7 linked regions of the Homo sapiens genome follow. The protein of the gene in region 2 purifies or fractionates together with the protein of the main gene of each other region. This does not show direct contact. Each region holds a gene or a part of one and is shown on either strand. Other genes may lie near its edges. The genes, in order: MICALL2, MAT2B, SEPHS1, EIF4H, GMDS, PDIA6 and TNS3.

Region 1 (3,500 bases), on a different chromosome or scaffold from region 2:
CAGGAGACTGGCCGTCCCTGCCAGCCTCGACGTTTGTGACAACTGGCTTCGGCCGGAGCCCCCTGGCCAGGAAGCCCGAGTGCAGAGCTGGAAGGAGGAGGAGAAGAAACCTCACCTTCAGGGCAAACCAGGTCAGCCCCAGAGACACCGCTGCTGTTTGGGGTGTACGTGAAGGGAGCCTTCCTCTGAGGAGGCAATGCCTGCTGGGGCTTTGGAGGATGCATTCACAGGACCTAGAATGGAGGGAAAGCCTGGAGGAAGGACCCAGCCCCGTGCCCCAGGCCCGCCCTCATGAATAGAGACCCTAGCTGTTTCAGAGTACCTTGTTACAGACTCATGGTGATGATGGAATGTCTGCTTCTGGCAGCTTGAGGGACTGGGGTGGCTGGGGTGTTGCTGACCTGGAGGAGGGCAGGGTGCAGGGTGGGGCTGGGCCTGGAGGCCACTCAGGTGTCTGTGGGGCTGGGTCAGGGCAGTCCAGTGGGCGTGTGGGGCATTAGGGAGGCAGGGCTGGGGCCAGCTGTGCTGTGCTGAGGTCAGGCTCCTTCCAAGCTGTGTCCTGGTCACGTTGGGCCTGGTGGCCCAGGTCCCAGAGGCTCACCCTGCTCCTTCTCCAGGGAGACCCTTGTCCCCGGCCAATGTCCCTGCTCTGCCTGGCGAGACGGTGACCTCCCCAGTCAGGGTGAGTAGTGGTGGGGAGCCGGGCAGGGGCCCAGCCCTCCGGCATCCTCACCGCCCCTCCGTTCCCAGCTGCACCCCGACTACCTCTCCCCGGAGGAGATACAGAGGCAGCTGCAGGACATCGAGAGGCGGCTGGACGCCCTGGAGCTCCGCGGCGTGGAGCTGGAGAAGCGACTGCGGGCGGCCGAGGGAGGTGAGCGCCTCGGCCTGGCCCTGGGCCAGCCCGACTCCCACAGACACCCTCAGTCCTGGGGCTGGGGGCCATGAACTCTGGCGGGCCCCCCTGCCCCAGCTGGCTCCTCTCCCCAGATGACGCTGAGGATAGCCTCATGGTGGACTGGTTCTGGCTCATTCACGAGAAGCAGCTTCTGCTGAGACAGGAGTCAGAGCTGATGTACAAGTGAGAGCCCAGCCGTGGGCCCCTCCTCGAAGGCCAGGACCTCGTTGCGGGCTGGGCAGGCCAGGCGGGGGACAGGAGCGCAGAGTCAGGCCTCAGATGCATGTCTGTGCGGCAGGTCCAGGACCTCGTTGCGGTCTGGGTGGGCCAGGCGGGGGACGGGCGGCGAGTCAGGCCTCAGACTCGTGTCTGTGTGGCAGGTCCAGGACCTCGTTGCGGGCTGGGCGGGCCAGGCGGGGGACAGGGCGGCAGAGTCAGGCCTCAGACGCGTGTCTGTGCGGCAGGTCCAAGGCCCAGCGTCTGGAGGAGCAGCAGCTGGACATCGAGGGCGAGCTGCGCCGGCTCATGGCCAAGCCCGGTGCGTCCCCCGCGCGCCAGCCAAGGGGCCCCAGCCAGGGATGCCGCGGAGCCCAGGATGTCTGGGGGCCGGCTCTGTGAGGCCACCTGACTGTCCTGGTGGTGAGACCTTCCCTGGAGCCAGGCGAGCCCACGTTTGAGTTTCAAATCTCCCACCTCCTGGCTGTGTGTCCTCAGCCAAGGTACTTAACCTTGCTGTGCTTGGGTTTCATCCTCTGCAAAGTGAGGATGCTTGTAGCACCCACCTCACGCAGCTGTTGTGAGGATTAAACGAATCAATTCGCACAAGGCATTTAGTGTAGCAGCAGTCAGGGCGAGCCATAGGCATTTGTCTCGTGATGCAGGGTGCCCTGGCTGAGGGCACAGGCCCAGGCCGTCTGCCTCTGCCCTTTCCTTGCTGTGCTGCAGGGACAGCGACGCCCTGAGCCTCAGTGTCCATATCTCTGCAGCGAGTGGTGTTTCTGCGAGATGATGGGGAAGGATCCCAGCACACGGGCTCTGACGTGGCCGTTCCTTCCTTCATTCACTTATTCACTCATTCATTCTGCTCCGGATCCCCCCAAGACCCCACCTTCTTCCTCCAAAAGAGGAGCCTGGCGCTTGGGTGGTGGGGACATTGTGTCCTGTGAGGGGCATGGCAGTGGTGGGGGGGGCTCCTGCTGACGAGCCATCCCCACAGAGGCTCTGAAGTCACTGCAGGAGCGGCGGCGGGAGCAGGAGCTGCTGGAGCAGTACGTGAGCACCGTGAACGACCGCAGTGACATCGTGGACTCGCTGGACGAGGACCGGCTCCGGTGAGGGGCAGGTGCCGGGGGCCCCTCCCAGCCAGGCCAGGTCGCCTGGTCCATGCTCCCGGCCCTCAGGGTCAGCCAGCCCCGTAGAACTTTCTGACCAGGCGGTTATTGTCTATGCTGACTGGTACAGTAGCCAGGGGCCACATGTGGCCATCGGGGACTTTTTGAAGTCTTTTTTTTTTTTTTTTTTGAGACAGAGTCTTGCTCTGTCACCAGGCTGGAGTGCAGTGGTGCGATCTTGGCTCACTGCAACCTGTCCCTTCCAGGTTCAAATGATTCTCTTGCCTCAGCTTCTCGAGTAGCTGGGATTACAGGCGCACACTACCACACCCGGCTAATTTTTTGTTTTTGTTTTTTTTGAGACGAAGTTTCCCTCCTGTTGCCCAGGCTGGAGTGTAGTGGTGCGATCTTGGCTCACTGCAACCTCCGTCTGCCGAGTTCAAGCGATTCTCCTGCCTCAGCCTCCTGAGTAGCAAGCTCGCACCACCATGCCCGGCTAATTTTTTGTATTTTTGGTAGAGACGGGGTTTCACCATGTTGGCTAGGCTGGTCTTGAACTCCTGACCTCAGGTGATCTGCCCTCCTTGGCCTCCCAAAGTGCTGGAATTACAGGCATGAGCCACCGTAACTGGCCGTAAAGTCTTAGTTTTTTTTGTTTGTTTTGTTTTGTTGTTTGTATTTTTTTTTTTGAGACAGAGTCTTGCTCTGTCGCCCAGGCTGGAGTGCAGTGGCCGCAATCTCGGCTCACTGCAAGCTCTGCCTCCAGGGTTCATGCCATTCTCCTGCCTCAGCTTCCCAAGTAGCTGGGACTACAGGCGCCCGCCACCACACCCGGCTAATTTTTTTAGATTTTTAGTAGAGACGGGGTTTCCCCATGTTAGCCAGGATGGTCTCGATCTGACCTCGTGATCCGCCCGCCTCAGCCTCCCAAAGTGCTGGGATTACAGGTGTGAGCCACCGTGCCCGGCCAAAGTCTTAGTTTTTAACTTGAACTTCCAAGGCCACGTGCGTCTCCTGGCTCCTGCACGGACTGTGTGACTGTCCCCGACAGCTTTCCTGTCTCGTCTCATGAGGGGTCCAGCACATGGCATTCTGGGTCGGCACCTGAAGTCCACCTCTATGAGACCCTCTGGGAGCGTGACGGGGCCTTGGCATGGGTCGGCCGAGGCCCTTCTGTCCCAGGTCACTGGTGTGGTCGGCCCAGGCCCTCCTGTCCCACATCACCTGTGTGGTCGGCCCAGGCCCTCCTGTCCCAGGTCACCGGTGTGGTC
Region 2 (3,500 bases):
AGAAGAGCAAGACCAAAATTTGAACAGGTTAATCTGTTGGATTCTAATGCAGTTCATCACATCATTCATGATTTTCAGGTATGATTTAGGTTATTTTAAGATATACATGAACAATATTAAGAGTTGTCTGGATGATACAGAAACTATCCTTGCTCTCAAGGAAATTACTATGTTTGAAAGCTCTAAAGTTGTATTATGCAGTAGCATTTTTTTCATTTAGCATGACATGGTATATGTAAACCTTAAAGTTAAATTTTGACACGCTGACAAAGACAAATATGAGACATTTTATAAAATGCTTATGTTTATAGAGTGCCTTCTAAGTAATACTTTCTCTGCAAATGGTTTTCAAATGTTACTGTAAACCTCACAACACTGCAAAATAGTTATTTTCATTTTAGGGCTGAGGGAGCAGGCTCAGAGAGGTTTTCGGTATCATTGATACTATTCTCCCTTTGACATGGATTTATTAGATATTTAAATCATGTTAATTGCATAAATGATAGCTCTTTCCTTTTGTCCAAATTGGGGGATAAAACTTGTTTTGATTTAGAAAGACTTCTGTTTTGTTCTTGTTTTTGTGACGTAATCTTGGTTTGTTGCCCAGGCTGGAGTGCAGTGGTGCAGTTGAGCTCACTGCAGCCTCCGCCTCCCAGGGTTCAAGCAATTCTCCTGCCTAAGCTTCCTGAGTACCTGAGACTACAGGCATGCGCAACCACACCTGGCTAATTGTTGTATTTCTAGTAGAGATGGGGTTTCACCATGTTGGCCAGGCTGGTCTTGAACTCCTGACCTCACGTGATCCACCCACCTCAGCCTTCCAAAGTGCTGGGATTACAGATTTGAGCCACCGCGCCCAGCCTAGAAACATGGTTGTTTTATTTTCAGACAGGGTCTCACTCTGTAGCCCAGGGTGAAGTACGGTAGATCGATCACAGCCCACTGTAGCCTTGAATTCCTTGGCTCAAGTGATCCTTCTGCCTCGGCCTCCACAACAGTTAGAACTACAGGCTCATGCCACCACGACTGGCTGATTTTTAAATTTTTTTGTAGAGATTGAGTACCAACCACTATGTTGCCTAGTCTTATCTTGAACTCCTGGCCTCAAGCATTGTCTCACCTCAGCCTCCCAAAGTGTTGGGATTACATGCATGAACCGTCACACCAGAGTAGAAATACAGTTGTTGACAGTTTTTTTCCTGGTTTGTGTCTGCATATTATGAAATACTCTTTTCAGTGCCTATAAATATTTTAAGTTTGAACCTTGCGGGGAAAAGAAGCAGCATGACAAAACTACATTAGAAATTACAATGATTTATTCTTAGTTGAAAGAATGTTGACTTACTGCACATTTTTCTCTGAATTAACTTTAAGAAGGCTGTAATACCTCTTTCATTTTATTTTGAGTTAAAAATACGTCAATGCTTAACTTCTAGCCCCATGTTATAGTACATTGTGCAGCAGAGAGAAGACCAGATGTTGTAGAAAATCAGCCAGATGCTGCCTCTCAACTTAATGTGGATGCTTCTGGGAATTTAGCAAAGGAAGCAGGTAATGATGACTTTATAAAATTTTCATAAAATATTAAGTGATTGCTGAGTTTTTAGAAATTAAGGTTTTGTAGATGGTTATTTGTTTTTATATATCATGAAAAACCATTCTAAATTCCATGAAAGAGTAATGTCATGTAAACATTTAATAGATTTGTCTTCTTTTTTTGTAGCTGCTGTTGGAGCATTTCTCATCTACATTAGCTCAGATTATGTATTTGATGGAACAAATCCACCTTACAGAGAGGAAGACATACCAGCTCCCCTAAATTTGTATGGCAAAACAAAATTAGATGGAGAAAAGGCTGTCCTGGAGAACAATCTAGGTAAGACCTAATCTATTTAGCCCCTGATTGTTTTTGAAGACTTTAAAAATCATTTATACATACACATATATATGTTTTAAATTTAAAAAGTCAATGAATATGAATCATTAGAGAAAAATTAGAATATAGTTAATAAAGAAAATAAAAAATTCTAAGAGATAACTACTTTGTGAATCCTTCAAGACAGTTTCCACTATCAGTGTTTACATATTCATCTTTACACATAGAAAACAAGTCAGGTAATACAAGCTTTTGTAACTCATTTTCAAAAAACAGGGCAGTATAATTTCTCTTAGAGTGAGATATTCTGTTTATGTATTCTGTTATATGTATGTTACTGTGTTATATGTGTATGTATTTTGTTTTTATGTATTCTGTTATATGTATGTTGTATGTATTAACATTCTATTATGGTGTTTCTTTTTTCCTGTATGTGAGTTTGTGTATAACACACATCTCCATATATAAAAAGTATACACTCCTTAGAAAAAATGTAAAATTACTAAGAACAAAAGTTCTCATAAATGCTGCCTCAGGGAGATAAACACCAAATATGGTTAAGTGTGGAAGCATTTTTATATATTTTCAAAAAATGTATGCATGTTGTTTCACAACCTGTTTTTTTTCCCTCAACATCTTTGCATTTTAGTACACATGGAACCTACTCTGGGATATCTTACTCCTATCAGTGGCTGCGTAGTACTTAATTTAATGGTCCCCTGCACTAAAACTACTGCCTTAGACTGTACTATGGCCTTGAGAAGCAGCCCTAGTGTAGAATACCTTACTAATGGACATTTAGTTTTTTAAAAAGTTTTCTTGTATTATAAATTATTCTGTTGAAATCATCCTTGAATACATTTGTCTTAGTTTATTTCGTGCTGCTATAACAGAATACCAACAACTCAGTAATTTATAAAGAACAGAAATTTATTTCACACAGTTCTAGAGGCTGAGAAGTCCAAGATCAAGGTGAGGGTCTTTCTGGTCCTCTGGAGGGGAGGAATGCTGTGTTCTCACGGCAGAAGAGCAGAAAGGGATGTGCTTCTTCCTTCAAGTCCTTTTATAATGGCATTAATCCATTCATAAGAGCAGAGTGCTGATGACCACCTAAACACCTCCCAAAATGCCCCACCTCCCAGCACTGTTGCTTCGTGGATTAAGTTTCAACATGAATTTTTGGAGAGGACAAAAACATTCAAACCATAGCAGTATCTAAGTTCTCTTGTCATGTAATTTAAAAGAAAATGTTTGATTTGCAGTTAAAGTGTTAACTATTGTATACCATCAGCAGGGACCATTATAAAATCTAAATATTAATGAGTGGTTGTAAAACTAATGTGAACACTCATATACCCTTCACATAGATTCACAAATTGTTGATGTTTTGTCACATTTGTTTTATATGTTTGCTTTTGCCAGACCCATTGATAATTAGTTGAATTTCATCTCCAAATACTTTACCTTTCTTTTATCTTCTAACAAGAAGAATGTTCTTCACATAATTACAGTGCAGTTATCATACATTTGGAAACTTAACATTAATATGGTACTGTAATCAAATACAAATCTATTTAGGAATTTTCTCATTTATGCCAAAAATGTCCTTTATTGCTTTTATTTT
Region 3 (3,500 bases), on a different chromosome or scaffold from region 2:
TGTTGTCTAGAACATCTTCCAGCATTGGATAAAATGATGACAATGTGAAATATTTTCTAGCTTTTGTTTTTGTTTGTTTTTGAGACAAGATCTCCCTGTGTTGCCCAGGTTGGAGTGCAGTGGTGTGATGAGAGCTCACTGCAGCAGCCTCAGCCTCCCGGGCTCAAGACATCCTCCCACTTCAGCCTCCGGAATAGCTGGGACCACAGGCACATGCCACCACACCAAGCAATATTTTTTTTTTTTGTTTTTGAGATGAAGTCTCACTCTTGTGCCCAGGGCTGGAGTGCAGTGATGCGATCTTGGCTAACTACAACCTCTGCCTCCCAGGTTCAAGCGATTCTCCTGCCTCAGCCTCCCAAGTAGCTGGGATTACAGGCGCATGCTACCACACCCGGCTAATTTTTGTATTTTTAGTAGAGACGGGGTTTCACCATGTTGGCCAGGCTGGTCTCAAACTCCTGACCTCAGGTGATCTGCCCGCCTCAGCCTCCCAAAGTGCTGGGAATACAGGCATGAGCCACTGTGCCCGGTCACCCAGCAATTTTTACATGTTTCGTAGAGAAAGGGGTCTGTCTGCATTGCCCAGACTGGTCTTAAACTCCTGGGCTCAAGCTCTCTGCCCACCTCGGACTCCCAAAGTGCTGGGATTACAGGCGTGAGCGATTATGCCTGGCCCCTAACAACCTTCCCTGTCTGTAAACTTTGAGGACTTCCTTTAGGATTTTATGGTTCTTTTTATAACTGTAAGTGTAAAAACCTTCTTTTCTGGGTTTTGAACAGAATTCTTTGACTTTTTATTTGTACCTTTTTCAACCTTAGGAAAGGGATAAAGTGATGCCTCTGATTATCCAAGGTTTTAAAGACGCAGCTGAGGAAGCAGGAACATCTGTAACAGGCGGCCAAACAGTACTAAACCCCTGGATTGTCCTGGGAGGAGTGGCTACCACTGTCTGCCAACCCAATGAATTTATCATGTAAGTTGATTTTTGTTTCATATCACCTGACCTGTTTTTCTCTCTCTGTCCTCTCTTTTTAAAAATTGATGTATTAAGGTCAGGTGCAGTGGCTCACACATATGATCCCAGACTTTGGTAGGCCGAGGCGGGCAGATCACCTGAGGTCAGGAGTTTGAGACCAGCCTGGCCAATGTGGCGAAACCCTGTCTCTACTAAAAATACAAAAATTAGCCAGGCATGGTGGGGCAAGCCTGTAGTTTCAGCTACTCTGGAGGCTGAGGCAGGAGAATCGCTTGAACCCCAGGGGTGGAGGTTGCAGTGAGCTGAGATCATGCCCCTGCACTCTAGCCTGGGCAACAGAACAAGATTCTGTCTCCAAAAAAAAAAAAGACAAGAACGCAAGGCTGGGCGCGGTTGCTCATGCCTGTAATCCCAGCGCTTTTGGAGGCCAAGGCGGGTGGATCACCTGAGGTTGGGAGTTTGAGACCAGCCTGACCAACATGGAGAAACCCCATCTCTACTAAAAATACACAATTAGCCAGGCATGATGGTACATGCCTGTAATCCCAGCTACTTGGGAGGCTGAGGCAGGAGAATCACTTGAACCCAGGAGGCTGCGGCTGCAGTGAGCCAAGATCGCGCCACTGCACTCCAGCCTGGGCAACAAGAGCGAAACTCCATCTCAAAAAAAAAAAAAAATAGATGTATTAAGATATAATTTGCGTACTATACCATTCACCCATTTAAAGAGTCAGTGGTTTGGAGTATACTCAGAGTTGTACAGCCATTACCGGAGTTGATGTTAGGATGTTTTCATTGCTACAGGAAGAAACCCCATCCTCCTCGGCTCTCACTGTTCACTCCTGCTCCATCCTGGATTTTGTCACTTAGCATAGTATTAGCATACTTTTAAGGGTCATCTATTTTGTAGCATGTGTCAGTATTTTAATCCTATTTTTAAGACATTTTAGGTGTTTTTGTTTTTTTTTTTTGAGACGGAGTCTTACTCCGTCGCCCAGGCTGGAGTGCAGTGGTATGATCTCGGCTCACTGCAAGCTCCATCTCCCGGGTTCATGCCATTCTCCTGCCTCAGCTTCCCGAGTAGCTGGGACTACAGGCACCTGCCACCATGCCCGGCTAATTTTTTGTATTTTTAGTAGAGATGGGGTTTCACCATGTTAGGCAGGATGGTCTCGATCTCCTGATCTCATGATCCGACCGCCTCAGCCTCCCAAAGTGCTGGGATTACAGGCGTGAGCCACCGCGCCCGGCTGACATTTTAGGTTTTTTAGTTGAAGTATAATTCACGTAACAAAATTTCACATAACATAGAATTCAGCATTTTGAAGTACACAATGTGTTGGTTTTTAGTATTGACAAGGTTGTGCACCCATCACCACTATCCAATTCCAGAATGTTTTCATCACCCCAAAAAGAAGCCCTGTAGCTCACTCCCATTTCCCTCCTGCTCCCATCCTCTGGCAACCAAGAATGTGCTTTTGTCTCTAAGGATTTGCCTGTTCTGGACATTGTATAGAAATGGAATCGTGCAGCATGACATGCTGTGTCTGGCTTCACTCCCATAGCGGAATGTTTTCCGGGTCCATCCGTGTTGTAGCATGAATCGGTATCGCATTCCTTTCCATGGCTGTATAATCCATTGCATGGATGGACCCTGCTTTATTTAGCCATTCCTCAGGTGACGGACCTTTGGGTTGTTTCCACCTATTAGGAATGATGCTGCCATGAACATTCTAAGTTTTTGTGTGGACATAAGTTCCGGTCTCTTGGGTGTATACCTAAGAATTGACTGGGTCATGTGGTAATTATGTTTAACTTGAGGAATCATCAGACTGGTCTCCAACATGGCTGCGCCATTTTACGTTCCCAGCAGCAATGTATGAGGATTCCAATTTCTCTATGACCCCTCCAGTACTTGTTTTCCTGTCTGTCTTTTGGATTCTAGCCAGCCTACTGGGTGTGAAGTGGAATGTCTTTGTGGTTTTGATTTGTGTCTGCCTGATGACTGATGAGGCCGAGCATCTTTTCATGTGCTTACTACCCATTTGTGTATCTTCTTTGGAGAAGTTTCTCTCCTAACCAAGTTGTCACTTTCCATGTTTGATGTCTTGTTAAGAAAAGTCAGTCTTTTGGCCGGGCGTGGTGGCTCATGCCTGTAATCCCAGCACTTTGGGAAGCCAAGACGGGTGGATCATCTGAGGTCAGGAGTTCAAGACCACCCTGGCCAACATGGTGAAACCCTGTCTCTACTAAAAATACAAAAAATTAGCCGGGCACGATGGCAGGCGCCTGTAATCCCAGCTACTCAGGAGACTGAGGAGAGTGGTTTGAACCCAGGAGGCGGAGGTTGCAGTGAGCCAAGATCGTGCCACTGTACTCCAGCCTGGGTGACAGAGTGAAACTCAGTTTCAAAAAAAAAAGATCTAGAATTAGAAATACCATTTGACCCAGCAATCCCATTACTGGGTATATACCCAAAGGATTATAAATCATGCTGCTGTAAAGACGCATGCACACATA
Region 4 (3,500 bases), on a different chromosome or scaffold from region 2:
CATTTTCCTTACTTAGCAACTACATCAAACACCCGAGAGTTTATCATCTCTCTTCATCCTCACCCTCCTTTTTAGTTTTTATGTATATGTTACACATTCATACACACAAACATACCTGCATATATACATGTGTTTTATACGTCCCACACAACTGTGAGCTGCTTACATACAAGACAGTCTTTTAACATCATTACGCATCACTAGATGTTTAATGTTGAGTAATGAATTTAAACTGTTTTTAACATTGACCCTCCATTTTTATGGTTTTCCACATGTTTATACTGTATCTTGTTTTTTGTTTGTTTGGTTTTGTTGTTGTTTTTTGTGCTTTTTTGTTTGTTTTTTGTGTTTTTTTGTTTTTGTTTTTTTGAGATGGAGTCTCGCTCTGTAGCCCAGGCTGAAGCGCAGTGACACAGTCTCAGCTCACTGCAAGCTCCACCTCAGCCTCTGAAGTAGCTGGGATTACAAGTGTGTGCTACCACACCTGGCTAGTTTTTGTATTTTTAGTAGAGACGGAGTTTTACCATGTTGGCCAGGCTGGTCTTGAACTTCTGGCCTCAAGTGATCCACCCACCTTGACCTCCCGAAGTGCTGGGATTACAGGTATGAGCCACTGTGCCCCGCCTTTTTGTTGTTGTTGTTGTTTCTTCAGTTGGAGACAGTCTCCTTCTGTCACCCAGGCTGGAGTGCAGTGGTGCCATCACAGTTCACTGCAGCAACAACCTCCTGGGCTCAGGTGATCCTCCCACCTCAGCCTCCCAGGTAGCTTGGGACTACAAGTGTGGACCATCACTCCCGGCTAATTTTTTGTATTTTTTATAGAGATGGGGTCTTACTGTGTTGCCCAGGCTGGTCTTGAACTCCTGGCTTTAAGTGATCCTCCCGCCTCAGCCTCCCAAACTGTTGGGATTACAGGCATGAGCCACTGGGCCCGGCTTTATACTGTAACTCATATATTTATTATCCCGTCCTAAATAGTATCTTACTGAAAATATTTTAGGATTTATGATTTCGGAGATATCAGCGATAGAGTACTATTGGCAAAGGTTATTGAAATGCAAAGTAAGTCACATTTACTAGGCCCGAAAAGATGGGAGAAGTGGGCAGGTAGGATGCAATTCACTTGTAAACCTATTTTCTGGTGGTCTTAGAACAGAACGTGGAACTTCCTATTGGAAAGTACCGGAATTGTGAATTATGAAACTTAAAAGCTTTTTTTTTTTTAACCATCAAAGAATCATCACAGCTTGGTTGACCCTTCTACTTTAGAAAAATGCTTTAATGAATAATATTTGTCTGCAAGACACCTGGAATTTATCTTCAGGAAGAAGTGGAATTTCCATTGTGTTTCTGGCAGTATGTAGATGAAAGACCAGGTTGCTCTCTAAGATGGATATTAATATTTCCCCTGCAAAGAGGGTGACTTTGGGCAGGTCTTGGGTTGTTGTGAAGGATCTCATTTATTTGAACGCATTTCCCGTTTAGAAAAAAAAACTGCAGTTGGCTGCCAGCACGGTATTCTTGGAGCAAACAGGAAATGGGTTAAATGTCTGTTTCAAAAAAAAATCACCCCCTTAATTTTTTTTTCCTCCTGAGTTTTCCAAACGTTTTATTTTGGAAATTTTCAAATCTACAATAAGGTTGAAATAATGGTACAGTTGGATGACGCTAGTGGATGCAGAAGTGACTATTCTGCCTTGTTTGCTGAATCCTTGCTGTATACCGGCACACATGCCCTTTATGCTGACCTGCTTGAAAACAAATGTTGGCCATCTTGGCACTTCACTTCTAACGACTTTAAGTCGTTCCTGGGGCATTCTTATGGCAAATATCGTTTAATATAATAATCTATTTATACTATATTCTGATGTCTTTTTTTTTTTTTTGAGATGGACTCTCGCTCTGTCGCCCAGGCTGGAGTGCAATGGGCTCACTACAACCTCCACCTCCTGGGTTCAAGCGATTCTCCTGCCTCAGCCTGCCCAGCAGCTGGGATTACAGGCATGCACCACCACACCAAGCTAATTTTGTATTTTTAGTAGAGACAGGGTTTTACCACATTGGTCAGGCTGATCTTGAACTCCTGACCTCAAGTGATCCACCCACCTCGGCCTCCCAAAATGCTGTATTAGGATTAACTCAGTTTTACAAATAAAATAAAGCTTAGAGAAGTTGAATAACTTCTCAAGGTCATATGCTAGTAAGTGACAGAGGCTAGATTTAAACCAATACCTATGCAGAGTAAACGACGCTTGATACAGCTGAGGAGATGACATCGAGGTTGAAATGGATTGGTAATGCACGCCATACGCATGTATTTGAGGACCCTGTGAAGTATTGCACGAGAGTGTTAGGTACGTCAGTACTTGCTGTGTGACATCTAAAATTTTTATTAGGACATTCTTATGCCCATAATCAGGCAACAAGGAGAAATTTTTTTTTTTTTTTTTTTTTTTTTTTTTTTTTTTTTTTTTTTTTTTTTTTTGAGACGGAGTCTCTGTCGCGTGAGCTGAAGTGCAGTGGTGCGATCTTGGCTCACTGCAGCCTCCGCTTCCCAGGTTCAAGCGGTAGGAGAAATAATTCTATTATGTATGAATGTGTTAAACGTAAACAACTTCAGTAATCCTTCTTCTGAATACAACATTACTTCTAGACTGTCCATTTCTGTATTTCTTAGAACCACGGTGTGTGAAGGAGGGTACTTGCTTAGGTTTTAGGATGTAAATACTGCAGATACAGATTCTGAGTGAATAGGAGAGAAGCAGTTGTCTTAGGAAGGTGTGTTACGTTTGGGCTGGGCATGGTGGCTCACACCTGTAATCCCAGCACTTTGGGAGGGTGAGGCAGGCAGACCACCTGAGGTCAGAAGTTGGAGACCAGCCTGGCCAACATGGTGAAACCCTGTTTCTACTAAAAATGCACAAATTAGCCAGGTGTGGTGGCACATGCCTGTAATCTCAGCATCCTTAGGAGGCTGAGACAGGAGAATCTCTTGAACCCGGGAAGCAGAGGTTCCAGTGAGCCAAGATTGTGCCACTGCACTCCAGCCTGGGTGACAGAGTGACAGTCTGTCTCAAAAAATTTTTCTTTTCCTTTTTTTTTGTTTCTCCAGCCATTCTCTGTAACAGTCTTGTGGTACATCGAGCAGAGTGCCTCACCTGGGGCGCTGGCGGCGTAGCTCAGCGGAAGACCGCTTTACTTGTTTTGCTTATTCCACTCTGGGCACACTTGAATCCTGTTTGTCTCCCCTCCTAGGTCCCGCGGCAGTGCTGGTGGCCATGGTTCCCGTAGCCAGAAGGAGTTGCCCACAGAGCCCCCCTACACAGCATACGTAGGAAATCTACCTTTCAATACGGTTCAGGGCGACATAGATGCTATCTTTAAGGATCTCAGCATAAGGAGTGTACGGCTAGTCAGAGACAAAGACACAGATAAATTTAAAGGTGAGTTTGGGGGATTCTTATTGTATATTACTGTAAAGTGTAGGGGAGGATGGGAAG
Region 5 (3,500 bases), on a different chromosome or scaffold from region 2:
TTTCTCATAACCTTACCTAGATAACAAGGTAAAACTGTCTCAGAAGTGCCTTTTAACTTTGTGATCTTTGAAAAAGCAGATAGAGTTTTCATTAAAGACCAGAGAACATTAAAACAATTTCAGTGCTTTCATCAAGATATGGCCCCTTTCAACCAATCATTTCAAAATATTACACAAAATTTAGGAGCCCTTTCTGTAAATAACACTGAAATGAATTTGGAAAGTGGCATTGCCTTAAGTATAGTACAGAGAAACTTTTGCCCAGGGGCCATATCATATCATTTGGATGGCTGTGCAGGTTTCTAAATAAGAGCCATCACCACTTATTTTGTTAAGAGAAAGGCAGCCTAAATAAATTCCTTTCTTGTTTCCTTTAACTAGTTACCCTGTGAACTAAGCTATGTTTCTTTCTCTCCCCATGAGTCCCAAAGTAGCTTTATTAATAGGAATATATGATGTTTGTGTTCTTAAAAAAAATCAGGGTGGTCTTAGATGTCTGTCGTCCATTCTGGCATTTCCCTTTATACAACCCTTTTGAATTTTCTGTTTAAAAACTGGCATTCCAACAGCTTTTCTTTGGCCTAATGCCTGGGTTGCATATTGAAGCAACAAATTAGGAATGTTAAGATGTCCCCCAAAGAAAAACGTTTGTTCTGAAAGTAGAGCTGATGTGACACATGGAATTAGGGCTTCTTAACTTGTCTAAATGACAGTTAATGATCTTTTCTCTTTTTCTTTTCTTTTATTGTTTTAACAGGGTGGCTGGGAGTGTAGAATGAAAGAAATGCCCAGAGGCCGAAATCGGGTTTGGTTCACCAAACTGTTAAATGTGTCAAGTGCACTTGACTGATACTACATCTTTTGCCTCTTTTTAGGAGCTAATTTCGTTACTCGAAAAATTAGCCGGTCAGTAGCTAAGATTTACCTTGGACAACTGGAATGTTTCAGTTTGGGAAATCTGGATGCCAAACGAGATTGGGGCCATGCCAAGGACTATGTGGAGGTAGGAACTGACACATTACATTCTTGAAAATACCCGTATCCATTGATATTCTAAATGCCAAGCGTACAGTGAAAAAGTGTGACCTAGAGGTGGGGGCATACAAACCTTTGCCAAGGCAGGTATGTTTACACTCATGCTGCTTTCACTTCAGGGATCAGTCGTTCAGGGATTGGTGGTTCAGACGTACAGGTAGCTTACACTGAATGGTACTTGAATGAGGAAAACTTTCACAAATACTCTTCCAATTATTTGTGCTGGATGATGGATAGATAGATGGAAAAAGTGTTTGAATGGTGCTCCTCTTTATTTTGGGGGTATAAAAGTACTAGTTCTCAGATCTTCTAGAAATACTGCCTCATTTCAATGTATATAATTCAAGATTCTTGGACTTACATTATTCTACTAAGTCCCGCCAAGAGTAATATTCTTATGGAACTCTGCTTTCTGCTGCTGAAGAGTCTGGTTATTACATCACACACTTCTTAACATGTTATATTGCATGTCGTTGAGCTTTACCTATTAAAGAGAGATAGAGAAAGATGTTAATAATGATTCTATTGTGAAATAATGGATATTGTTAAAGGGAAATTCAGATTTTCATTCTTGGCATTCCTAGACATGCTGTTTTGGGTTTGCATATATTACATACGCAAGTAGTATGATTTTTCTTTTATAAACAAATGGTTACCTTTTACTTTGCCCTGATCTCCCTGCTTTTAAATATCCATGTTGGTTCTGTGGTCAGACATGAGCAAGCATGGTAGAGACATTGTCCTTTCCCTGGAGTAGCCTGTCCTTGTTCAAGTGCTCACAGATTTCCTGTGCTCATGAGCCTATTTCTGTCCTGAATGATGTCTCTCTAGGAAACTGGACCCAGCTTTCTTGTTCATTTATGCAATTCAAAAAGAAACTTTAATGCCTACAAAAGAAAGCAAACAATTAGTTTGTTTGCTAGTGCAGAGATGAGGCTCACCTGCCATCTTGTTTTTGGTCATAACAATAAAAAATGTGTGTGTGTTTGAACAGCTAATACTGATTTCTGTTATGCACAAAATAATTAGCTTTGACTTTAGATTTTGAATAGTGCAACATTTAGATCTATTTATTTATTTATTTATTTATTTATTTATTTTTGAGACAGAGTCTCTCTCTGTTGCTCAGGCTAGAGTGCAGTGGCATGATTTCGCCTCACTACAACCTCGGCCTCCCAGGTTCAAGCGATTCTCCTGCCTCAGCCTCCTGCGTAGGTGGGACTATAGGCATGCGCCACCACACCCGACTAATTTTTGTTTTTTTAGCAGAGATGGGGTTTCACCATTTTGACCAGGCGGGTCTCAAACTCCTGACCTCAGGTGATCCACCCGCCTTAGCCTCCCAAAGTGCTGGGATTACAGGGATGAGCCACCGTGCCCAGCCTAAATCTTTTAAATATGTGCTTCTAAGCTATAATTACAAAGAAGCATTTTATGACATTAATCCTTAGATTTATTTTCAGAACATCACATCAAAAAATATATAGGTTCACGCTTAGAAATTATGAGAAAGTAGATACTGGCAAGAGAAGCCAAAACTTTCTTTTGTCTAACCTAAATGACCTTACCTACTGAAAAATATGAGGCTTGTTATGTAAAAATACATTATTTTCTCAATAATATCTATTTATTGTTTAGCCTTCTAGCCATCAGCATCTGCATAGAGCTACATAGTAAGCTATAGGTATTCTTTTTTTTTTTTTTCTTAAGGCAGAGTCTCGCTCTGTTGCCAGTCTGGAATGCAGTGGCACAATCTTGGCTCACTGCAACCTCTGCCTCCCGGGTTCAAGCGATTCTCCTGCCTCAGACTCATGAGTAGCTGGGACTACAGGCGCGTACCACGACGCCCAGCTAATTTTTATATTTTTAGTAGAGACGGGGTTTCACTGTGTTGACCAGGATGGTCTCCATCTGTTGACCTCATGATCCACCCACCTTGGCCTCCCAAAGTGCCGGGATTACAGGCTTGAGCCACTGCACCTGGCCCTATATAGGTATTATTTATCCAAACTCTTCTCCAAGTTCAAGGAACCAAATCGATTAAATTTCATTCAATTTTATTATTTTGCACGTAGGTGAAAAAGGATTCGGAAATCTAATAGATTTTGATAGTGAGGGAAACAGTATACCATAATGTTGATAGTGCTTTTTACAGGTTGTGTTTATTTTCTTCTTTATACTGTCTTTATTTTCCATAGATTTTAAATGAACATGTGTAAACCTTTGTAATTGGCCGGGGTAGGAGGTGACATTTCAGAAACAGGCCAAAAAGTCTCATGAAAATGAATGAGAGTGTTAAGTAAGTAAGGAGGAAGTCTTGTGTCAACGAGTAGATCTGAAAGAAGGACGCTGCTGTCATCTCACTTCCCAAATGCCAAGCTAGCTCCACTGTGAGTGTAGTCCACATCTGGGCACAACACTTCCCAAATGCCAAGCTAGCGCTGCTGCGAGTGTAGTCCACATCT
Region 6 (3,500 bases), on a different chromosome or scaffold from region 2:
CATAACATCCTAGGATGAAGCAGCAGCTGTACTTGAGTCTGAATTAGAACAGTGTTGTTCAGGTGGTTTTTTGAGCCATGTTGAGGTTTCTCTCTAAAAATAGCTGGTGACAGCATTCAGGTACAGGTTATGTGTTGTACTGAATGTATTGATAATTACTTGAAAGTAAAAGACTATTTGCCAAGCAAAAATTACAGTGCTGAGGAATGTACCCAATTTGAATACAACCGTTTTCACTATTTTATTCACTAAAGAAAAACCCTAAAACTTTGTTAAGATGTAGCAGTAGTGTTATTATTTAAAACAGGAAAAGTGTTCTTCTTGGCCCAATTGTTTGATGTTTAATGTCATAAATGACAGGGCAGAAGTGATAGTTCAAGTAAGAAGGATGTGATTGAGCTGACAGACGACAGCTTTGATAAGAATGTTCTGGACAGTGAAGATGTTTGGATGGTTGAGTTCTATGCTCCTTGGTGTGGACACTGCAAAAAGTAAGTGCCTTCTACTAAGTAGTCTGTTCATTCACAGTGTTTTCAGTACATTCATTAGCTTATTTTGAAAGAGCTGAAGTAGATAATAGATCACCACTAAGATCTCTTCCAGCAAAACTCTGACTCTAAGTGAATATTAAACATTGACATTAGCGCCAAGAGCTTCCACTCTCCTATTGCCAAAGATTAACAAGGGACTGGCTCATGTCTGGATTTAGGGGCAGTGGTGGAATGGGAAGCTCATGTGAAGGGTAGCATTGTATCTTTAGTAAAGCCACACACAAAATGTTTTCTAGGTGTGACATAATTGGGGATTGGGCAGAAATGCACAGATCAGTTAAAAAGTATAGGCTAGGCATGGTGGCTCACACCTGTAATCCTAGCTCTTTGGGAGGCCGAGGCAGGCGGATCACTTGAGGTCAGGACTTTGAGACCAGCCTGGGCAACATAGCAAAACCCCATGTCTACTAAAAATACAAAAAAATTGGCTGGGTGTGGTGGCGTGTGCCTGTAGTCCCAGCTACTTGGGAGGTTGAGGTGCAAGAATCTCTTGATTGTGGGAGGCAGAGGCTACAGTGAGCCAAGCTCACACCACTGCGCTCCATCCTGGATAATAGAAGGAGACTCTGTCTTAAAAAAAAAAAGAAAAGAAAAGAAAGGTGTTTGGGCTGCAAGTTAAAATGCAAGTATTTGGCCTGGTGAGGTGGATCACTTGAGGCCAGGAGTTTGAGACCAGCCTGGGCAACATGGGGAAACCCTATCTCTACTAAAAATGTAGAAATTAACAGTGGGTGGTGGCACACACCTGTAGTCCCAGCTATGTTGGAGGCTGAAATGAGATCACCTGAGCCCAGGAGATTGAGGCTGCAGGGAGCCATGATTGCACCACTGCACTCCAGCCTGGGCAACAGAGAGAGACTGTGTCTCAAAGAAACAAAACAAAACGAATATTTTTCTATAGCCTAGAGCCAGAGTGGGCTGCCGCAGCTTCAGAAGTAAAAGAGCAGACGAAAGGAAAAGTGAAACTGGCAGCTGTGGATGCTACAGTCAATCAGGTTCTGGCCTCCCGATACGGGGTGAGTATACTTATAAGGCTCATTTCATTGTGAAATACATGGTGTTTCGTTACTTCTTCCAATACTCCAGGCCTCCCTATGAGGTAGTAAAGGAGATGTTTAAACCATTTTGTAAGTGAAGAGATAAAGTCACTTTATTGTCATAACTAACAAGTCTGAAACTCAGGACTGTCAACTTTTCCCCCTAATGTCACACTGCTTCTGGTATATACTTAATGTGAGGTTTCAGCTTGCCCAGACTTATTCAAGTTGCTCATATGGCTGTTGTGAGTTGGTCCATTTGTTCTAGGGCAGGTACTTTGTGTTAATTATATACCAGGGCTTGAATATGATTGGCTAAACTTCACAGACTGTTAAAACTCCCTGATTGATAATTGACCTCTGTGAGTCATTCCTTTGAAATCTGTGCAGTCTGGAGAACAGTTTTGTTACATTAAATTACCTATAAGGCCAGAGTGGTGGCTCACACCTGTAATCCCAACACTTTGGGAGGCCAAGGATCACTTGAGGCCAGGATTTCAAAACCAGCCTGGCCAACATGGTGAAACCCCGTCTCTATTAAAAATACAAATATTAGCCGGGTGTGGTGGTGTGTGCCTGCAGTCCCAGCTACTCAGGAGGCTGAAGTAGGAGAATTGCTTGAACCCAGGAGGCAGAGGTTGCAGTGAGCTGAGATTGCACCTGTGCTCTCCAGCCTGGGCAACAGAGTGAGACTGCTTCAAAAAAAAAAAAAAAAAATTACCTATAAGGTGGTTTTAGAAACTGTAAAGATTGTGTTATTTTGCATTAAGTGTTAATTGGATTTTATCCTCTGACCTTTTTTTAATAGATTAGAGGATTTCCTACAATCAAGATATTTCAGAAAGGCGAGTCTCCTGTGGATTATGACGGTGGGCGGACAAGATCCGACATCGTGTCCCGGGCCCTTGATTTGTTTTCTGATAACGCCCCACCTCCTGAGCTGCTTGAGGTAAACCACTTCAACTGCTTGTAGTCCAGAAAGCTTTTTTAGCTGATGGTGAGGAATGTTAAAGCAGTGTGACACACTGTTCATTTTATGCCCTTAAAGATACTCTCTTTAAAGTGGTTTCTATACTTTGAAATGGAAAAAAAGTCTGATAAATTGCTTTTCATAACTTTTAGCATTAGAATAATTACACTGAACAGAAATACGAGCTTCTTAAAGATAGAGTGTATTCAATCACTCTTGCTTATCATTCTCAAAGTAATAGAACATTTATCAAGTACTAATCATGTAACAGGCACCGTTCTGGTGTCTTTGTATAGTTTTGTTTTGTTTTGTTTTGTTTTCATTTAATTCTCACATGAACACTGAGAGGTAGATACTGTTTTTAATCTCCATTTTATATATGGGGAAATTGAGGCACAGAGCCTCAAGTGTGTATAAACATATAAGACATATAATACATGTAAGTATAATCTATTTAAACAAGTAAGTGGCAGAGCCAGGCTGTGTCCAGGCATTGCGATTTCAGAGATGTTTGTATGTGTGCTAATCACCCCACCTCCACCACCACAGCTTCCACAGGCTTAAGAATCAGTAGCAGAAAAATCTCCTCTTAGAGAACATGCCTCCAGGTGTTTCCATACGAGGAAGTAGTCGTGGGAGAAATGTTTTCAATGAAAGTGACGGTGCGAAGGTCTTGTTTGCCAGCTTACCTTTAGGTGTTGTATCATGCAGCCTCCTGATTGTCCCTTGTCTTTTGGGTCCCACAGATTATCAACGAGGACATTGCCAAGAGGACGTGTGAGGAGCACCAGCTCTGTGTTGTGGCTGTGCTGCCCCATATCCTTGATACTGGTAAGACAGACGGAAATGATTTCCCTTAGCTGTTCTATGCTAGATGCTCTGAGAATACTTTCTAAATGGATTAATTTTATGGACTCCTTTATCTTTACCTTTAAAAAACTT
Region 7 (3,500 bases), on a different chromosome or scaffold from region 2:
GATCTCCTGACCTCATGATCCGCCCTCCTCGGCCTCCCAAAGTGCTGGGATTACAGGCGTGAGCCACCGCGCCCGGCCGTATCTTTGCTTCTTAATTTGCTTTTTGACTATTTTTCTACAAAATAGTTTTCTTGTAATATGTGCTCATTGTAGACTTGGAAAAGATAGAGAAATGCTAAGGAAAAAGGAAAAAATTCCTTCTAATATCACCTCCACAGAGGTTCATATTTTAGCCTTCTTGTGTGCCATATGTTTTCTGTGCTTTTTTAATTTACCAAGCTGAGATCATACCATATGTATTATTTTGTATCCTGCATTTTAAAGTCAATGTGGCAGTATAAGCATTTCCCAATCCAGAAATAGCTCTGCATAAATATGACTGCTGATGACAGTATAGTACTCCAGTATGTGGATGTACCATGATATTTGGACTTCACTATTTGTTCATTGATCATTTACATCCTGTGTTATGCTTGCACATAGGTCTTTGGGCAGATCGTAGCTAGTCATGCTCTTGAAAGGATTTCTAGCAGACTCTTTGGCATCAAAGAATACAAACATCTTTTTTTTTAAGCTTTGGTAAAACATGCATAACATGAACTTTGTCGTTTTAATCATGTTTAACTGCGGCAGTTAGGCGACATTAAGAACCTTCACGTTGTGCAGCCATCACCACCCTCCAGCTCCAGAACTCTTTCCATTTTGCAGAACTGAAACTCGGTGTCCCTTAAGCACTAACTCCCCATGTTCCCCTCCCCCCAGTCCCTGGCAACCACCATTCTACTTTCTGTCCCTGTGAAACGGACTACATCGGGTGCCTCATACAAGTGGAATCATACAGTATTTGTATTTTTTGTGATTTGTTTATTTCACTTAGAATACTGTACTCAAGGTTTCATCCATGTTGTAGCATGTGTCACGATTTCTCTCTTTTTAAGGCTGAATAATACCGTGTGTGTGGGGGTGTGTGTGTGTGTGTGTGTGTCTGTATGAATAGCACATTTTGTTTATCCATTCATCTGTTGATACACTTCAGTTACTTCTACCCTTCGGCTGTTGTGAATAATGCTGCTATGGACATGGGTGTATAAGTCCCTGCTTTCCATTTTTTTTTTGGTGAGCACAAGCTTTTTGGAACTCCTTAGTATATATGGTCAAATTGCAGTTGAGACATAGGGTGCTGGCTGGATTCTCACGGTGTCCACCCGCTGTCCTTAAACATGGCTAGGTTATCACCCCCAGGGTAAAAACCAGGCCTGCAGGAAAAGGAAGAGGGAGACTTCTTACCAAGCTATTTTGACAGATTGTGTAAACTCTGTGATTAATGGGATGAGAAAGCAGGAAGAATGTCTTTCATTTAAAAAAAAAAGAGCCTTCGGGGTTGCTTGGTTTTATTTTCAATTAAAAGGGTCTGATTTTGTTTCTGGAGAATGGTTTTAATTTGGATAAATGGTTCAGTCTGGGAACCACATGCCAGAGCCTATGATCTATGAGTGCAATTACTCAGGGTTTCCTCGGCTGCTTTTCTGAGGGAACGGTCCAGAACTGGGCTCGCTCTGGTTTGGCTCTGTTAAAACGTCGATGCAGGCCCTGGGCAGTTGGAGTGAGGCGGTTCTTGTGATCAGTCCTTGAAGTGCAGCCATAATGCCCTCCCCATAATGCCTTCCCCAACTGATGGTGGTTAATTTTTACCCTCTAAGAATGTGTTCACAATTCCAAATCAGGAATGTCAACAGCAGGCTGTCGTTTTCCCCTCCTTGGAACATGTTGAACCAGAATTACTGGCATCTTTTCCAACGTGGGCATTTGCAGAATTGGTGGGATTTGGGGGCTCAAGGAGGAGGCAGACTCATCCTAATGTTTCTCCTCTGGATTACTTGAGGTCCCTGGCCGGGCAGGCCTGCAGGCCCAGAGACGGGGTGGTGGGTTGCTCTATCTGGAGTCAACTGGTGTTTCTTTCCAAGAGGATGCTGGGCTGGGGGAGGTGAGGGACTAAATCCTGGGCGACTTTGCAGAAGGACCCGTCGCGATGGAGGGGCAGCGTGGGCAGAGGCCCTGGGCAGGGCCACCTGCTGTGTTCTGGAGTAGCAAAGGGGATTTGCAGAAGGCAAAGAAGAATACAAAGACACAAGGTAGGGTGTTTCACCCTTTCGGAGAACTGTGGCAAAGCCCTGGACAACTTTCCATGGCGCTTGTAGATTTGAGACCAATGCCCCAGCGACCTAGCGGGCTGGTGGGAGGCAGCGTGGAGGGCGGCAGGGTGTCCCCAGGGTGGGAGGTGGAGAGAGTCTGCACAGAAATTTCCAAGAGCACAGCCCATAAGGGAAGAATAGGCTTGCTCGTGAGGTGGGTGAAGGCATTGCCCTGCTGGCTTGTATCAGGGCGTTGGCTCCTGGGTCCTCAACAAAGGGCATATTAGCATAATGAATAGTTAAGTTACTTGGTTGGGCTTCAGTCCTTGGGGCCGTGGTCTCTTTCCGAGGGAAGGACTGGTGGGTGGGCCCCACCTCTGGAGATCCAGCCTGCATTGGGACCACGTGGTTTGAGAAATGTTTTCCCAAGCCTGGGCCACACGTGACCCTTGATTTCTGGGGCAGCCCTGGTGGCAACTCCCCACATATCCCTGTGAGGCCTTTCTCATTTTCCACTGGCAAGGATTCAGGTGTAACCAGATTATTCTGATGAAAAATTTGAGTGAGACAGGTAACCCGCAACACACAGAGTTGCTATGTTTTGCTCTTTTTTTTTTTTTTGAGACGGAGTCTCGTTCTGTCGCCCAGGCACGATCTCAGCTCACTGCAACCTCCCCATCCCGGGTTCAAATAATTCTTCTGCCTCAGCCTCCATAGCTGGGACTACAGACGTGTGCCACCACGCCCCGCTAATTTTTGTATTTTTAGTAGAGACAGTGTTTCACCATGTTGGCCAGGCTGGTCTCGAACTCCTGACCTCAGGCGATCTGCCCGCCTCGGCCTCCCAAAGTGCTGGGATTACAGGCCTTAGCCACTGCACCCGATCATGTGTTGCTCTTTAACTCCCCACCCCCACCTCCATTAAATAGGAATAATCCAAAACATAGGTCATCGAGAGCATACTGTGCTTTTAAGGCATTTTGCTTATTATTAGTAGAGATTTTGCGACAACTGGAATGGTGTTTATTCACTTTTTAAAGGCTCACTCTTCTCACAGGATAACAGAACACACGATCATTCATTTTCCTCTTCCCACGAAGGTGTTTGCAGCAGTGGGCGTGAGAAGCATAGTGTGTGTGTGACTACCGCGCGAATGGTTCTCCCAAACCTGGATCCCGACCTAGGCGTTGCCGTTGCCGGTCTCTGGGTGTCACCCTCCCATTTATGACTGTAGTGACTTCTCAGAACGCCCTGGAGGGATGGCCTTACTCCAAATGGTCCCTCGGCTGCCGGGCTATTTGTGAGTAAAAGATGTTTGTCAGTGCTGCTTCTTTTAGAACATGCCCATTCCACATCAGCTCAGCTTGT

Evidence for each region.
Region 1: the proteins of MAT2B (region 2) and MICALL2 purify together in Homo sapiens (co-immunoprecipitation; one large-scale study listed by IntAct). This does not show direct contact.
Region 3: the proteins of MAT2B (region 2) and SEPHS1 fractionate together in Homo sapiens (co-fractionation; one large-scale study listed by BioGRID). This does not show direct contact.
Region 4: the proteins of MAT2B (region 2) and EIF4H fractionate together in Homo sapiens (co-fractionation; one large-scale study listed by BioGRID). This does not show direct contact.
Region 5: the proteins of MAT2B (region 2) and GMDS fractionate together in Homo sapiens (co-fractionation; one large-scale study listed by BioGRID). This does not show direct contact.
Region 6: the proteins of MAT2B (region 2) and PDIA6 fractionate together in Homo sapiens (co-fractionation; one large-scale study listed by BioGRID). This does not show direct contact.
Region 7: the proteins of MAT2B (region 2) and TNS3 fractionate together in Homo sapiens (co-fractionation; one large-scale study listed by BioGRID). This does not show direct contact.

What each region holds. Positions count from the first base shown.
Region 1 is NC_000007.14:1,435,471-1,438,970, reverse strand, and holds part of MICALL2 (MICAL-like protein 2), read left to right. Parts: coding exon 1-131; exon of another isoform or gene 132-617; coding exon 618-682; intron 683-750; coding exon 751-874; intron 875-990; coding exon 991-1,081; intron 1,082-1,362; coding exon 1,363-1,436; intron 1,437-2,114; coding exon 2,115-2,229; intron 2,230-3,500. UniProt on the Homo sapiens protein: Effector of small Rab GTPases which is involved in junctional complexes assembly through the regulation of cell adhesion molecules transport to the plasma membrane and actin cytoskeleton reorganization.
Region 2 is NC_000005.10:163,512,119-163,515,618, forward strand, and holds part of MAT2B (methionine adenosyltransferase 2 subunit beta), read left to right. Parts: coding exon 1-78; intron 79-1,436; coding exon 1,437-1,551; intron 1,552-1,723; coding exon 1,724-1,876; intron 1,877-3,500.
Region 3 is NC_000010.11:13,331,294-13,334,793, reverse strand, and holds part of SEPHS1 (selenide, water dikinase 1), read left to right. Parts: intron 1-822; coding exon 823-977; intron 978-3,500. UniProt on the Homo sapiens protein: Synthesizes selenophosphate from selenide and ATP.
Region 4 is NC_000007.14:74,184,356-74,187,855, forward strand, and holds part of EIF4H (eukaryotic translation initiation factor 4H), read left to right. Parts: intron 1-3,255; coding exon 3,256-3,443; intron 3,444-3,500. UniProt on the Homo sapiens protein: Stimulates the RNA helicase activity of EIF4A in the translation initiation complex. Binds weakly mRNA.
Region 5 is NC_000006.12:1,927,606-1,931,105, reverse strand, and holds part of GMDS (GDP-mannose 4,6 dehydratase), read left to right. Parts: intron 1-875; coding exon 876-1,003; intron 1,004-3,500. UniProt on the Homo sapiens protein: Catalyzes the conversion of GDP-D-mannose to GDP-4-dehydro-6-deoxy-D-mannose.
Region 6 is NC_000002.12:10,788,786-10,792,285, reverse strand, and holds part of PDIA6 (protein disulfide-isomerase A6 isoform d precursor), read left to right. Parts: intron 1-360; coding exon 361-491; intron 492-1,452; coding exon 1,453-1,567; intron 1,568-2,396; coding exon 2,397-2,537; intron 2,538-3,304; coding exon 3,305-3,389; intron 3,390-3,500. UniProt on the Homo sapiens protein: May function as a chaperone that inhibits aggregation of misfolded proteins. Negatively regulates the unfolded protein response (UPR) through binding to UPR sensors such as ERN1, which in turn inactivates ERN1 signaling.
Region 7 is NC_000007.14:47,572,112-47,575,611, reverse strand, and holds part of TNS3 (tensin-3), read left to right. Parts: intron 1-3,500. UniProt on the Homo sapiens protein: May act as a protein phosphatase and/or a lipid phosphatase. Involved in the dissociation of the integrin-tensin-actin complex. EGF activates TNS4 and down-regulates TNS3 which results in capping the tail of ITGB1.